Linked DNA regions of Homo sapiens. The protein of the gene in region 1 interacts with the protein of each later gene in a biochemical or structural test. Each region holds a gene or a part of one and is shown on either strand. Other genes may lie near its edges.

The links. Proteins that work in one complex are often made in the same cells at the same time.
Region 2: the proteins of TGFB2 (region 1) and PZP form a complex in vitro, tested with the Homo sapiens proteins (one study listed by BioGRID).

The regions. Positions count from the first base shown.
Region 1 is NC_000001.11:218,340,307-218,348,339, forward strand, and holds the start of TGFB2 (transforming growth factor beta-2 proprotein isoform 2 preproprotein), read left to right. Parts: upstream 1-5,029; 5' UTR 5,030-6,395; coding exon 6,396-6,741; intron 6,742-8,033.
Region 2 is NC_000012.12:9,156,386-9,163,419, reverse strand, and holds part of PZP (pregnancy zone protein precursor), read left to right. Parts: intron 1-771; coding exon 772-823; intron 824-975; exon of another isoform or gene 976-1,139; intron 1,140-2,303; coding exon 2,304-2,387; exon of another isoform or gene 2,388-2,388; intron 2,389-2,929; coding exon 2,930-3,106; intron 3,107-3,394; coding exon 3,395-3,482; intron 3,483-4,843; coding exon 4,844-5,000; intron 5,001-5,578; coding exon 5,579-5,653; intron 5,654-6,064; coding exon 6,065-6,245; intron 6,246-7,034. UniProt on the Homo sapiens protein: Is able to inhibit all four classes of proteinases by a unique 'trapping' mechanism. This protein has a peptide stretch, called the 'bait region' which contains specific cleavage sites for different proteinases.

The DNA.
Region 1 (8,033 bases):
CAGGTTTATATTAATGCTAAAATTGTGCAAGTAGCATTTTCAAAATGTATCTCTGATGGTGATTTTTAGAATATGCTGCATAGGCAAAGGAAAAAAAAGGTCTTGGAAGTATGCAAAATATAATATCACCACTGTAACCGAAAAAAGGTGAAAGACTAACAGATGTATTCTTACAGATTTAAAGTGGCTTCATTTTAAATAAGGTAATTATCTGGGAGAGTCCTGATTTACCCCTGTTGTCTTAGTGTATCAATGAGTGGCATCCTCTTTACTGCAAAAAATGTTTGGATTTGTGTGACAAATGATGTAGCTACCCTAGTTATGAGAACTTTATTTTCTACTAAGATTTCAAATAATCATCAGTGAGAGTTTGTGGTCTGTAGTCTCCCGTTTTATAAATTATAACCATCTATATAGCTGTGCTTTTCAAAATACTTACATACTTAGGCTTTTAAAAATACTTATTTACTAATTTTTCCCTCTATCATAAACTACACTGAGGTTTTCTTTTTTTATGCAATTACTATTGACCCTTGGTTTTTATTTATTTATTTTTTTTTTAATTGCAGGCTAATCGAGGCAGCAGAACGGCATATTTGTTTGAAATGTAGGTTGGTAATTTTGGCAGTGGAAATTTAGACATTTGGAATTTTACCCAATCTATGAAGCCCACTGAGATGATGACAGACACATAAATTCATTTAAAGACCATGTATCTTTAAAAAAAAAAAAAAAACTTTTGTTATATTATACTCATTTTAATTATGAGAACACAGTCATATTTTTCTCTATCACTCACCTTCTCTTTTTCTTTCTCATCTTTTGTGTTTATTTTTAGTTGGCCAAAACACTCTCTCCATTTCTCCCCAGCAACCTCATTCTGGTTTCTTGCTTTGTGAAGTCTATCTGTGAACTTCTGTGGTGACAGAGTAAATGAAGGAGGAGTAGAGATTCTGTAAAGGTGAGTGTCAAGTACTGCCCTAAAAAATAAGGAAAATTCTGCTGCTGGTTTCTTTTTGTCAACATTAGGATTTTGTTAAGCACTTATCCATAGCGTTATGCTGTGTCCCAACTATTACCATATGTTCATTTATTTATATCAGTTACTAAATGCTATCTTAGTGGGTGAATTTCACCAGGGGCAAGAAACCAGAGGCTGCAGCTACAGGGATGACATAGCACAGGCCACTGTGAGACTGCCTCCCAAAGAAAGACTTTCCTGGAGAGCTAAAATTGTAGAGTTATGAGTGGCCCAAAAGCCACAAGCAGTAATCAATCAACTAATCATAATTCCAAAGGGTGAGATAATGTTCCCACAGTGTATCATTAGTGTGATGAGTTTATCTCTTTAAAGCCTCACAACCTGCTGATATGCTGTGGTTTTTCTTGGTCCTATCTCTTTATCTTTTACCACCTCTGATCTCTTTAAACCCACCCTGTTTCCATTTTCCTCCCCGCCCATTGTTTCCTCATTTTTCCTTAACACTTCTTCCTTAGATTAACCTTTAAATACAAATGGAAATAATAATCGGATTATTTTTTGTAAGGAAACCACCTTTCTGTTTCATTATTCATAACTAGAATAATGAAATAAAGCTGTTTATAGAAATGCATCTAGAACATGAGACAAAATTGATATAGACCAAACATTGTTCTTGAATAGTGGTATCAAATATAAAATTATAAATAAAATCTTAAAAGACTTTTGGTGTATTTTCATATTAAAGGGTTATTTTGCATTTATCAAGTATCACTATTTGGGGGGAAATGTAATCAATTACCGTCGTTCCATGTATTTCTTTTTTTCACCTCCTGATTTTTCATGCTTGAAACCGTTCTGGAAAGCTTCCAGAATTGTTACAAATGAAGTTATGCTTTGGTCAATGTTAGTAAGGACCTATGATCCATAGGCGTAAAACTCCAGGACAGGGATGAGTAGTTTTGTTTTCTTCAGCCTCTTGTAGAAATCCCACATTACTTAAGTGAATAGACCCATTGATGAGTGGAGAATGGCTAAGAGTGGAAACAGCTCCACTCTCTACCTCTGTAATTTCAAAACAAAAGATTCCATTTGAGGGCTTTAATAAGAGACTTTAATCGTGAATGCTTAACTGAACTTTGATAGTCATTTAGCATTTTATTCACCAAAAGTGTATTTTCTTGTCCTTCCCTCCTATAATTACTGGGGGCAAAATACCATAATATTTAAAATGTGCCTACAGAAACTACTAGGAGGCAGAACTAGAAGCAAATTCTTCTTGGGTTCTTTCCTGGCTTTTCAGAGAGAGCGAGAGAGAGAGAGAGAGAAGGCCAGATATTTTTATTATAAATTCCTTGACAGAAATAAAGACATGATAGGATAAGAAACTCACAGAGTCAGTGAGTAACTTGTTCAGGATCACAAAGCCAGAAAGTGACAGAAATCTGAACCCAAAAAACCATGACTGGAGCCTGCCCTTTAAACCACTGTGCTCTCCTGCCTCCTTGAAGTAATCAAGATGGGTGTATATCATTTAAATACCCTTTTACCATGAAGACTGTAGAGACCCCGGCACATAAGACCTCCATTAAATATAGAGATGAAAAGGCATTATAAGAGCCATTTAATAGAAGAAATGATTCATTTACGGTTACCAGGGAGACAGCTCTAGCAATCTTGCCGGTTAGGTCTTCAAAGAACTGATCATTTGAGAGGTGGAAAGGGGCTCCTCCTCTCCTGCTATACTCACTTACTGCACTTACCCATTCCAGAAGCTTTTACCAATACCTCCCGTCTTACCCTCCTGGGCTTTGGGGAAATTAAAGTAGCCTCTTATGAGTAAGTCAGGGGTCTCAGGTCTAAGGAGTTGTTAAGTGAGCAATAGGTACTCAGTAAACTAAGTATTATGAACAAAAGTGTGTATGTCTATGTCAGGAAGAGGGGTGGCCATCAGAATTTATGGCTTGCGCTGTTTTCCTAGAAGTGATGTAAATGAACTTTTGCTACTCTATCCACACTCTAATCTGAATCTACTTAAGGTGCATCAGTGTCTGTACCAAGAAGGTTGTCTATAAACATGAAAGATGCTCACTGGCTTGTGGAAGCTGAACCTGTATCCTCAGCAAAATACAGTGATAGCTAATTCAGGTAACCAGCCATATTCCACAGCAGCATCTTCTCTCAGTAGCTCTGGTTTGGAGCTCCTGCTCTGTGTCTATAATGGCCACAGGTGTAAGAATATTCACTTTTTGTCCAATCTGTAGAGCTAGCCTACTGCAGTTCTCAAACTGAACTCAGAGGGAGGACCTAACTGGATGAAACTACTAGTCTGACAGTAGCGCCTCTTGATTATCTTTTTCTTGGGCTACTGGGATGGTAGCTTTGCTTCAACTCAAAACTGGTATCAAGGAAAGGAACCTGCTGGTGCTGATTTATACATAATTTTTAGAATTATTCAGAAGTGGGTTGGAACAATTATTTTATTCCAGAGTTTTTCAATGTGTGATAATGGAAAAAATTCTGTATTCAAGGGAGTTTGGAAAATGCTGGGTTAAAAGAGTGAAAAGGTTTTCTCTTCTACAGGAGTTTCAGAGCCTTTAACATGATAATGTTCCAGAATGAGGAATCTAAGAGGACAGGAGAGTACCCAGTATCTCCCAAACTTGTTTGACTCCAGAATTCCTGTTTGTCAGAACATATTCTGGGACCATTGTTTCTCAGAAGTACATAGTAGGTAAGAACATAGTGGATCCTGACTGCAAAAATCCAGCTCTACCACTTACTGTGGTCTCGAACAAAGTACTTAACTTCTTTGTACCTCAGTCTCCTCATCTGCCAGATATGGATAATAAGACCCACTTTATAGGTTCATAGTGAAGATTAAATGACCATACACAACACACATCAAATTACTAAGTGTAGTATATGTTAGCTATTATTATTTTATTTATTCAGTGCTCTACTAATAACCTAGGCCCCATACACAACTGAAGTATAAATTCCAAAAGTGATAGAAAGTTCTTTGTGACTTTTCTGAACTCAGGAACATCTGAAGTAGAGAACAGTATAGAGATCTTGGGTTTGGGAGTACATTCAACAGAGTTTCCAGTTTAAATCATCTGTCTGGTCAGTATGGCTGCAGAGTCATGCCGAAATGAAAATGTTGACTTTGAGTAACTAAAGGTAAAATAAAAGAAAAAGGGAAGGTGGAACAGTGGTAAGAGTTATTCTTGTATTCATCTAATTTAGACTTAGTTGAAATTGAAAATGTCAAGTTATGAGTAGTGTAGAACAGTAGACATCAAACACTTAAAATTCCAGCTTCCTGGATTAATGCTATGGAAAGAATGAAGTTGGTTGATAATGTTTAGCCTAGCAAGAAGGTGAAGAAGAAAGCCATACAAGAAGTGGCTTAGGCAGCAAATTATAAAGGTGACCATTCATTCAAATCAGTAAAACAAACAAGTATACCTTATTCTTTAGGTAAAATTGATGGATCTCTGTTTTCCAGCAGTTCACAAACAGAGGGGTACATTGTAAACAACAAACTAACAAAATAAATTCTGGGATGGCAACCTGCTAAGGTATCCCAGAAAATAAGAGGTAGGACATGAATTTAAAAGATTGGAAGGTATGTCTTCAGTACTGGCCTGGCCCTGAGTAGACTAGTGCTCCCTCCCATAGGGGTGCGTGTGCACACATAATACAGGAGGGAAGCCTTCCCTTCTAGAGCAAGTGATTCAGCTTGGGAGGCTGTGACTGAGCTACACTAAGTAAAAACGGGAGACTTGATTGTCCTTCCTTCAACAGACCTGTCCAAAATGACTGGAAAGTAAATACCGTAAATCACTGTTGTCAGGGCGCACATTCCACCTCCTTCCTCCCTTACCCACAGCGGTCCTCATTTCCACACTCCCTCAACGGTTCGGGGAGAGCTCGTGGTCTAAGTAACGAGAGGACTTCTGACTGTAATCCTAGCACGTCACTTTGTTGAAGGCAGACACGTGGTTCAGAGAGAACTTATAAATCTCCCCTCCCCGGCAAGATCGTGATGTTATCTGCTGGCAGCAGAAGGTTCGCTCCGAGCGGAGCTCCAGAAGCTCCTGACAAGAGAAAGACAGATTGAGATAGAGATAGAAAGAGAAAGAGAGAAAGAGACAGCAGAGCGAGAGCGCAAGTGAAAGAGGCAGGGGAGGGGGATGGAGAATATTAGCCTGACGGTCTAGGGAGTCATCCAGGAACAAACTGAGGGGCTGCCCGGCTGCAGACAGGAGGAGACAGAGAGGATCTATTTTAGGGTGGCAAGTGCCTACCTACCCTAAGCGAGCAATTCCACGTTGGGGAGAAGCCAGCAGAGGTTGGGAAAGGGTGGGAGTCCAAGGGAGCCCCTGCGCAACCCCCTCAGGAATAAAACTCCCCAGCCAGGGTGTCGCAAGGGCTGCCGTTGTGATCCGCAGGGGGTGAACGCAACCGCGACGGCTGATCGTCTGTGGCTGGGTTGGCGTTTGGAGCAAGAGAAGGAGGAGCAGGAGAAGGAGGGAGCTGGAGGCTGGAAGCGTTTGCAAGCGGCGGCGGCAGCAACGTGGAGTAACCAAGCGGGTCAGCGCGCGCCCGCCAGGGTGTAGGCCACGGAGCGCAGCTCCCAGAGCAGGATCCGCGCCGCCTCAGCAGCCTCTGCGGCCCCTGCGGCACCCGACCGAGTACCGAGCGCCCTGCGAAGCGCACCCTCCTCCCCGCGGTGCGCTGGGCTCGCCCCCAGCGCGCGCACACGCACACACACACACACACACACACACGCACGCACACACGTGTGCGCTTCTCTGCTCCGGAGCTGCTGCTGCTCCTGCTCTCAGCGCCGCAGTGGAAGGCAGGACCGAACCGCTCCTTCTTTAAATATATAAATTTCAGCCCAGGTCAGCCTCGGCGGCCCCCCTCACCGCGCTCCCGGCGCCCCTCCCGTCAGTTCGCCAGCTGCCAGCCCCGGGACCTTTTCATCTCTTCCCTTTTGGCCGGAGGAGCCGAGTTCAGATCCGCCACTCCGCACCCGAGACTGACACACTGAACTCCACTTCCTCCTCTTAAATTTATTTCTACTTAATAGCCACTCGTCTCTTTTTTTCCCCATCTCATTGCTCCAAGAATTTTTTTCTTCTTACTCGCCAAAGTCAGGGTTCCCTCTGCCCGTCCCGTATTAATATTTCCACTTTTGGAACTACTGGCCTTTTCTTTTTAAAGGAATTCAAGCAGGATACGTTTTTCTGTTGGGCATTGACTAGATTGTTTGCAAAAGTTTCGCATCAAAAACAACAACAACAAAAAACCAAACAACTCTCCTTGATCTATACTTTGAGAATTGTTGATTTCTTTTTTTTATTCTGACTTTTAAAAACAACTTTTTTTTCCACTTTTTTAAAAAATGCACTACTGTGTGCTGAGCGCTTTTCTGATCCTGCATCTGGTCACGGTCGCGCTCAGCCTGTCTACCTGCAGCACACTCGATATGGACCAGTTCATGCGCAAGAGGATCGAGGCGATCCGCGGGCAGATCCTGAGCAAGCTGAAGCTCACCAGTCCCCCAGAAGACTATCCTGAGCCCGAGGAAGTCCCCCCGGAGGTGATTTCCATCTACAACAGCACCAGGGACTTGCTCCAGGAGAAGGCGAGCCGGAGGGCGGCCGCCTGCGAGCGCGAGAGGAGCGACGAAGAGTACTACGCCAAGGAGGTTTACAAAATAGACATGCCGCCCTTCTTCCCCTCCGAAAGTAAGTACTTATTTTGACTTCCATCCCCTGAGGTTTAGCTCTGCCCGGAGCTCTCAAAACCGCAGCAGCTCCCGGGATCGCCCTTCCCTCTCGCGGTTCCCGTTCGCTCTTTTCCCGTTCTCCTGTCCTTCACCCCACCACCTCCTTTTCAGTTGTATGCTTGAGGCCATCAGGCTTTAAAATGTTTACTTTCTACTTTATTTTCTCCATCTTTCCCTTCCCCCTAACAATTCGGTGCTTTAAAAGGCGTTATTCTCTTTTTCTCTTCCCTGAAGTTCTTTAGTCGGCCACCAGCTAGGAGTCAGCCCCACTCTGTCAAACTAGAGGTGCTCCCAGGGGCAGAGTTAAACTGAGGAATCTTGGTAGGTTTGTTTTCTTTGCTCCGATTGGCGTGGAGCGCGCCGAACTGGTGCACGAAGGGTTAAAAAAAGTGTCTCAAAACTAGCCTCTCCGGAAGGCGCCCCCTTTCCGTGCTGACCTATCAGCTGGTTCCCCAAGCCTTCTCTATTGTCTCTAACTACCCTAAAAATGTCAGCATCGCCGAGACAAAACCCGGTTTGGAGACCCCTCGAGAAACCTACCTGGCCCTCAGTCCTTGATGTATCATTTGCTATCACTAGGTGTTTCATTACCCAAAGGCAAAATCCTATAACCACGTTCCCTTTTCACTTAACCTGGAGTGTAGAAAGGACAACTCCGTTTCTGACTGTGTTTTAAAAGGTTTTGTTCACGTTATTTTTCAGAATACACTCAAACCTGCCTTCTTCACATCTCCAGTGTAGCAGATCATTTTTCTTACGGGTCTGTTATCCTGCTCCTGCCTTTTCGTAGGCTTCCTGCAGTTACTTCAATGCATTCCTAAAACTCAGAGTAGACGACAGCCGTATTTTTTTTTTTTTTTTTTACTGGCTTCTCTGAGAACAGTGTCCTCAAAACCAGCTGGCATACAGTAGCAATAGGAGTGAAATGATTTATTGCAGAGGAAGGGAACAGACAGTGTAGAATGATTTCAGAGTTCTTAAAAAAAGAAAAAAAAGAAAGAAAGAAAGAAAAGGGGCAGCAGCATCCACTTGATACCTGAGAGGGTTAAATACCAGGAAGAAGAAAAAGAAAAGTGGGGGCGGGGTGGGGGGAACCTCTTCAACATTTGTGTATTCCAAATCCCAAGTCATAAACTTTTCATTGGTTGCTCATTTCTCTCCTCCCCTTTCCATGCCCTGTATACTTGCTGGCTGCCTTTGCAAAGTCTCTGTGTCTTGCCTAAATAGATAATATAGCCATCTTGGTAATTT
Region 2 (7,034 bases), on another chromosome or scaffold:
GTGCAGTGTTGCGATCTCGGCTCACTGAAAGCTCTGCCTCCCGGGTTCATGCCATTCTCCTGCCTCAGCCTCCCGAGTAGCTGGGACTACAGGCGCCTGGCTAATTTTTTTTTTTTTTTTTTTGTATTTTTAGTAGAGACGGGGTTTCACCATGTTAGCCAGGATGGTCTCAATCTCCTGACCTCGTGATCCTCCCTTCTCGGCCTCCCAAAGTGCTGGGATTACATTGAGCGCAATTTCTTGATCTCCACCTCTCTCCTAAGATTCACATATCTCTCATACCCATTAGCTTTGATTTACTGCCCTTATTATCTCTTCCCATTTTCTCTCTACCACCCTCCCTGGTTCTTCAATGTTTTATGGATTTGTAATAATTCAATAACAAGTAGGATGTTATGTTCTCACTTATAAGTGGGAGCTGAATGATGCAAACACATAGACACATGGAGGCGAGCAACATATATGGGGCCTGTCTGAGAGTGGGAGTGACAGAAGGGAGAGCATCAGGAAGAATAGCTAGTGGATGCTGGGCTTAATCCCTAGGTGATGGGATGATCTGTGCAGCAAACCACCATGGCACACATTTACCTATGTAACAAACCTGCACCTCCTGCACATGTCCCCTTGAACTTAAAACAAAAGTTGGGAAAAAAAGAGTAGGATGGTAAACATCATTCGTGTAAACCCTACCCATCAAAGAAAGGAATCCATGTGGTTCTCTTGTCACCAGGATGTTTCTATCTTTTCTCCTTTTCTTTCCTTTCATCCAAGGCTGAAGGTATTGAGCAAGAAAAGACTTTCAGTTCTATGACCTGTGCCTCAGGTAAGAGTCCATCTTCATAATCATAGTGAGATCAAAACCACAAAGGGGTATAAACCTCAAGTTACAATGCACATTCATTTTATCTCCCAGTTTTCAGAGTGTTCCATGAAAGTCAGCATAATACTAAATATTTCTTTATGTATGTTTTACAGATGAAGACATTGAGCCCAAGAGAGCAAGTTAATGTGACTCAGGTGGTACAGACAGGACTAATACCTGGGCTTTCTTGGTTCATACGTAGCCCTTTTACCTGGATAGCCCAGTGGCTGCTCACTGACAAGCCCAGCTGCAGAAGCTTAGAGTGTCCCAGGATGAGGTAGAAAGAGAGCAGGGTTAGCCGGGTGTGGTGGCTCACATTTGTAATCCCAGCATTTTGGGAGGCTGAGGCGGGAGGATGACTTGAGGTCAGGGGTTTGAGAACAGCCTGGCCAACATGGTGAAACCCTGTCTCTACGAAAAAAACAAAAATTAGCCAGGCCTGGTGGCGGGCGCCTGTAGTCCCAGCTACATGGGGGGCTGGGGCACGAGAATCGCTTGAGCCGGGCAGGGGGAGGTTGCAGTGAGCCGAAATCACACCACTGCGCTCCAACCTGGGCAACAGAGTGAGACTCTTAAAAAAACAAACAAGCAAACAACAACAACAACAAAAACTAAAGACAGCAGGGTCATGATAAGTTTGAATCCCAAGAGATAGTCTCTAAAACAGCTGCTGACAAAACATATAGCATTTCCTACCCATCTCACTAAAAATGTGTGTTTTCCGTGTAGAAAATAATTTACATTTAAGTTCATCATATCATTAAGAAGTAGTTGTAGCTTTTATACAGAACCGCCACATTATTAGTTCTATGTCCACAGTGTATACAGCACTGTATTTGTCATTTGAGAAGGACTAATTTAAGGTATATTCATGTTATCTATTTATAAACATGGGAATCCATTCAAATATAGTGTAAGGGAGGCAGTAAAATAACTTGTATTATCATGGTTATAAGTCTTAATATTGCTACAAAAGTGGAGAGCGATAGTTCCCCCACTAAGTCTTAGGCTTCTTTTAGAAAGCTACTGAGCACAGCCATGCAAAAATATAGTTAAATGAGAAGAGGAAGGACTCTGGAAGTCACACAGTGCCAAAAGCAATTAGACTATCAAAGGTAGTCTCATCATTAAGTCAAATTCTTATTCCTTGCACCCAGAGTTCCACAAGGAGATATAATAATATTACTGCTAACTCTAATAATAAAATAACTGCAATAATAACAATTGCTCACATTCGTTGAAATTGAATATGTTGCAGATACTGTTCTGAATGTTTTACATGTGTTTTTTCCTCAAATCATCACAATTTACCCAAGGTCACAAAGCAGGGCCAGTACCATATCCAGGGAGTGTGGCTCTGAAGCTCTCACTACATTATAATCACTAAATTATATTGTAATCATAGATGTCCTCCTTTAACATGGGCTGTCTGTTTCTAAAGGTGCTAATGTGTCTGAGCAGTTGTCCTTGAAGCTCCCATCAAATGTGGTCAAAGAATCTGCCAGAGCTTCTTTCTCAGTTCTGGGTGAGTCACCTTCCATTTAGTAAACCTGGGCCAAAAGAGTTGCCACTGTACATCTTATCTACGTATTTGTATTTGAATTATCAAGTTCTTGATAGCTGCTATTCTTTTTTATTTTTTTGAGATGGAGTCTCGCTCTGTCGCCCAGGCTGGAGTACAGTGACGTGATCTCGGCTCACTGCAAGCTCCGCCTCCTGGGTTCACGCCATTCTCCTGCCTCAGCCTCCCGAGTAGCTGGGACTACAGGCGCCCGCCACCACGCCCGGCTAATTTTTTTGTATTTTTAGTAGAGACGGGGTTTCACCGTGTTCACCAGGATGGTCTCGATATCCTGACCTCATGATCCGCCCGCCTCGGCCTCCCAAAGTGCTGGGATTACAGGCGATAGCTGCTATTCTTATTAGGATTCTGGAAGTCACACTCTGTGTATATAACTTTTCTCTTACCTAAATGATAGACTCTGAATATAAAGGCCATTTTTGTTAATAATGTTGGCTATTTATGAACTGAAATTATTCTGACATCTAATCTTTCACATTCCCCAGGTGACATATTAGGTTCTGCTATGCAAAATATACAAAATCTCCTCCAGATGCCATATGGCTGTGGAGAACAGAACATGGTCCTATTTGCTCCTAACATCTATGTCTTGAACTATCTGAATGAAACCCAGCAGCTGACGCAGGAGATCAAGGCCAAGGCCGTTGGCTATCTCATCACTGGTAAGTGAGACAGAGAAAAATTTACTTTGTTACTCTAATGAAACTTTTCCCAATTAAGCTTCAGTTATATCATCAAATATTAACCCATGATGATAATTTTTATGAAAACAACAATCTTCCCACACTCTAATAGGATGTTGTGTTTGATCTATCCATAACATTCACAAAACTATGGCAGATCACAGAAGGTCATAAAATGTCCATGGCGCCTGGATGCATGAGCCTAAACATATGGATGGCCTGCCTTTCTTTAATGCTTCATGAACAATCTGAAGCCTTCCATTTCAGGTTACCAGAGACAGCTGAACTACAAACACCAAGATGGCTCCTACAGCACCTTTGGGGAACGATATGGCAGGAACCAGGGCAACACTTGGTAAGAAAGAAAATCTATTCTGAGTTTCAACTATGAGTTCAGAACGTGCACATAGATTACCTGTCTTAGTCCATTTTCTGTTGCTTATAACAGAATACCTGAAACTAGGTAATTTATAAAGAAAAGAAATTTATTTCTTATAGCTATGAAGGCTGATAAGTCAAAAGTCTAGGGGCCGCATCTAGTTGAGAGTCTTCTTGCTGGTGTGGACTCTGAGGAGTCCCACGGTGATGCAGGGCATCATATGACTAGAGGATTGAATGGGCTCACTTGGGTCTCTCCTTCTCTTCTTTTCTTTTCTTTGTTTTACTTTGTAGAGACTGGGCTAGCATCTCCTCCTCTTCTTATGAAGCCACCAGTCCAACTGTCATGATAGCCCTTTAATCTAGGAATAGATTCATCCATTCATGAGAGCAGAACCCTCATGAGCCAATCACCTCTTAAAGGCTCCACCTCTCAATACTACCACATTGGGGATTAAGTTTTAACATGAGTTTTGGTGGAGAAACAATTTCTAAACCATAATGTTACCTTATTTAATTCTTATAGCTACCCTGGGAAGTGAGAGTTATTAGCTTCATTTTACAGAGGAGAAAACATATTCAGTGTGGATAAATAAATGTGTCAGGAGCAAACATCTAATAAGTGGCAAAATTGAGAACACTTTTAGGTTGATTTTTTTAATCCAATATACCCAGACCCTCTTCCTTCTCATGTTGCTAAGGGAACATTATAGGTTTGTAACTTGCCCCCTTAAATTGTTGCTCAGCCCTAAGAGGTGTTAGAAAAATGCTAGAATAAAACCACAACCATTACTGGCAGAGCATACCTTACTACCTTCTACTAGATGATATCCTTTCTCTCTCTCTCTTTGTAGTTTTACCACACAGGCAAACACAGGGGAAAAAAGTGGAAGGGCAGGATGATGGAGGGAAATATTTACTGAAGCAGAACATTAGAAGTTAGCTGATTAGAGTTAAAACTACAGAAAGTAAGCTAAGAAATCTAGGAAAGGAAATAAATTCATAGAGCCCACAGTGTAAAAGCAAATGACTTAGTTAACCAACCAAGAAAACTGGAAGGAACCTGAACCTCTGAAGTGGCATAGAAATGCTTTAGGAAGCAAGGACAAGCTGGTAATGAATTGAACAACATGTGGCAGCAAAAAAAAAAAAAAAAAGAAAAGAAAAGAAAAAAGAAAAAGAGATGTCTAAGCTAAAAAGAAAAAGTCTCCAAACTCTCAGTAACAGCTGATTGACTTTCTTGGGTGCACACTGTGATGGGGGAGCCTGTGTGTACAAAACAGAGCAGTAAAGTGCTCAATGAAAAGAGCCTCAGCACTGCATTTTTCCTCCCCCTAGGCTCACAGCTTTTGTACTGAAGACTTTCGCCCAGGCTCGATCCTACATCTTCATTGATGAAGCACACATTACCCAATCTCTCACGTGGCTCTCCCAGATGCAGAAGGACAATGGCTGTTTCAGGAGCTCTGGGTCACTGCTCAACAATGCCATAAAGGTGAACTGTTCCACAAACTTCTGAGCCTGACACACATCAACATAACATCCCCCAGGGGTGAAGGGAGGAAGGAGGCACAAGGAAATTGCAAAGATGAAGTCCTGGATGATGTGGGATGGCATCAGGGAAAGAGTATTACACTTTCTACAGAGAAGGAAGAAATTGGGCCAGATGCAGTGGATCACACGTAGAATCACAGCACTTTGGGAGGCCAAGGCAGGTGGATCACTTGAGCCCAGGAGTATAAGACTAGCCTGGGCAACATAGCAAGACCCAGTCTCTACAAAAAACATTTTACAAAATTAGCCAGGCATGGTGGCCTGTGCCTGTAGTTGCAGCTACTTGACAAGCTGAGGCAGCAAAATTGCTTGAGCCTAGGAGCTTGAGGCTGTCATGTGTGATAGTGCTACTGCACTCCAGCCTGAGCTACAGAGCAAGAACCTGTCGAGAGAGAGAGAGAGAAGGAAATGGTATACTTTGAATGGAAACAGATACTGAGGAGCGTTTCCATCAAACAACAGAAGAGAATATACTAACACTTGGCACTGGAATTAATCAAATCAATGTTGTATTCACAGGGAGGTGTAGAAGATGAAGCGACCCTCTCCGCCTATGTTACTATTGCCCTTCTGGAAATTCCTCTCCCAGTCACTGTAGGTACCAGCTCAATCCCATTCCCTACCATGAAAACTGTAGATTTGCTGTCTGGAATGCCACCCTGCTAAGGGTTGAGTCTCAAGTATCTTTTGGTTCAATGATGAGGGATTTCTCAGACTGATAAGCTCTTTGGTTGATGCATTAAGAGAGATTTACACTTGCCCAGTAATGCCCATAGACTATGTATCAAAACCAATCCTAAAAACAGGTTCTCTAGTCTTATTCTTTAAGACTGAACTATAAAGGGAAGAGATCGAAATATTTTTCTATTTAAATATGATGAATATCTAGCTGTCTGCCTATCTGTCTGAAATCTATTAATAACATCTGACTGTCAATATCCAGCTCTCAGCTTGCTCTGCCCTCTATTCACCCTAGTTTGACACAACCACATTTTGCCTTTACAGAACCCTATTGTTCGCAATGCCCTGTTCTGCCTGGAGTCAGCCTGGAATGTAGCAAAGGAGGGGACCCATGGGAGCCATGTCTACACCAAGGCATTGCTGGCCTATGCTTTTTCCCTACTGGGAAAGCAAAATCAGAATAGAGAAATACTGAACTCACTTGATAAGGAAGCTGTGAAAGAAGGTGAGAGCACTTATAAGTGGGAGCTGAACAATGAGAACACATAGACACAGGGAGGGGAACAGCACACATTGGGGCCTGTCTGGGAGGTGCGGAGAGGGAGAGCATCAGGATAGATAGCTAATGCATGGGGGACCTAATAACCAGGTGATGGGCTGATACATGCAGCAAACCACCATGGCACACCTATGTAACAAACCTGCACATCCTGCACATGTACCCCAGAACTTAAAATAAAATAACATTTAAAAAATAAATAAATAAATAGATAAATAATAAAAGTTTTTTTAAAAACTGTGCAAAAAAAGGTGAGAGCAAACAGCAAATGGTACCAAATTTCCATTTCCATTTACACTGATTCTACAAAAAGAAGAAATATATTCCTTCTGAAATCCACAAGCTTCATCTGTAATTCCTTAGCCAAGTCATACATTGTGAGATCAGAGCACCTCTTATAAAACTGTCTTCTCTGGGATTGCATATGTTACACAGAGCAGAACATAATAGACATAATGCTGCAGATAAATAATGCAGTTTTATTTCTACTTGCTAAAACCAATATAATAGACAAATAGATTCATTTTCTCATGATTTCTCTCTACTTACTTGAATGAAAAGAGGTACAACAGCTCTTCCATACCCCCTAAATTCCCACCCAATGCCGTCCTGGCTGCACCATGCTCACTTCATGCTCTGGGCTTCTCCTAAGCTAGTGCTGCTATAGTCTCCTTTCAGCTACCATCATAATTATCTACCAGGATCTCATCAGCCACGCTGAGATGTTCTCTGACA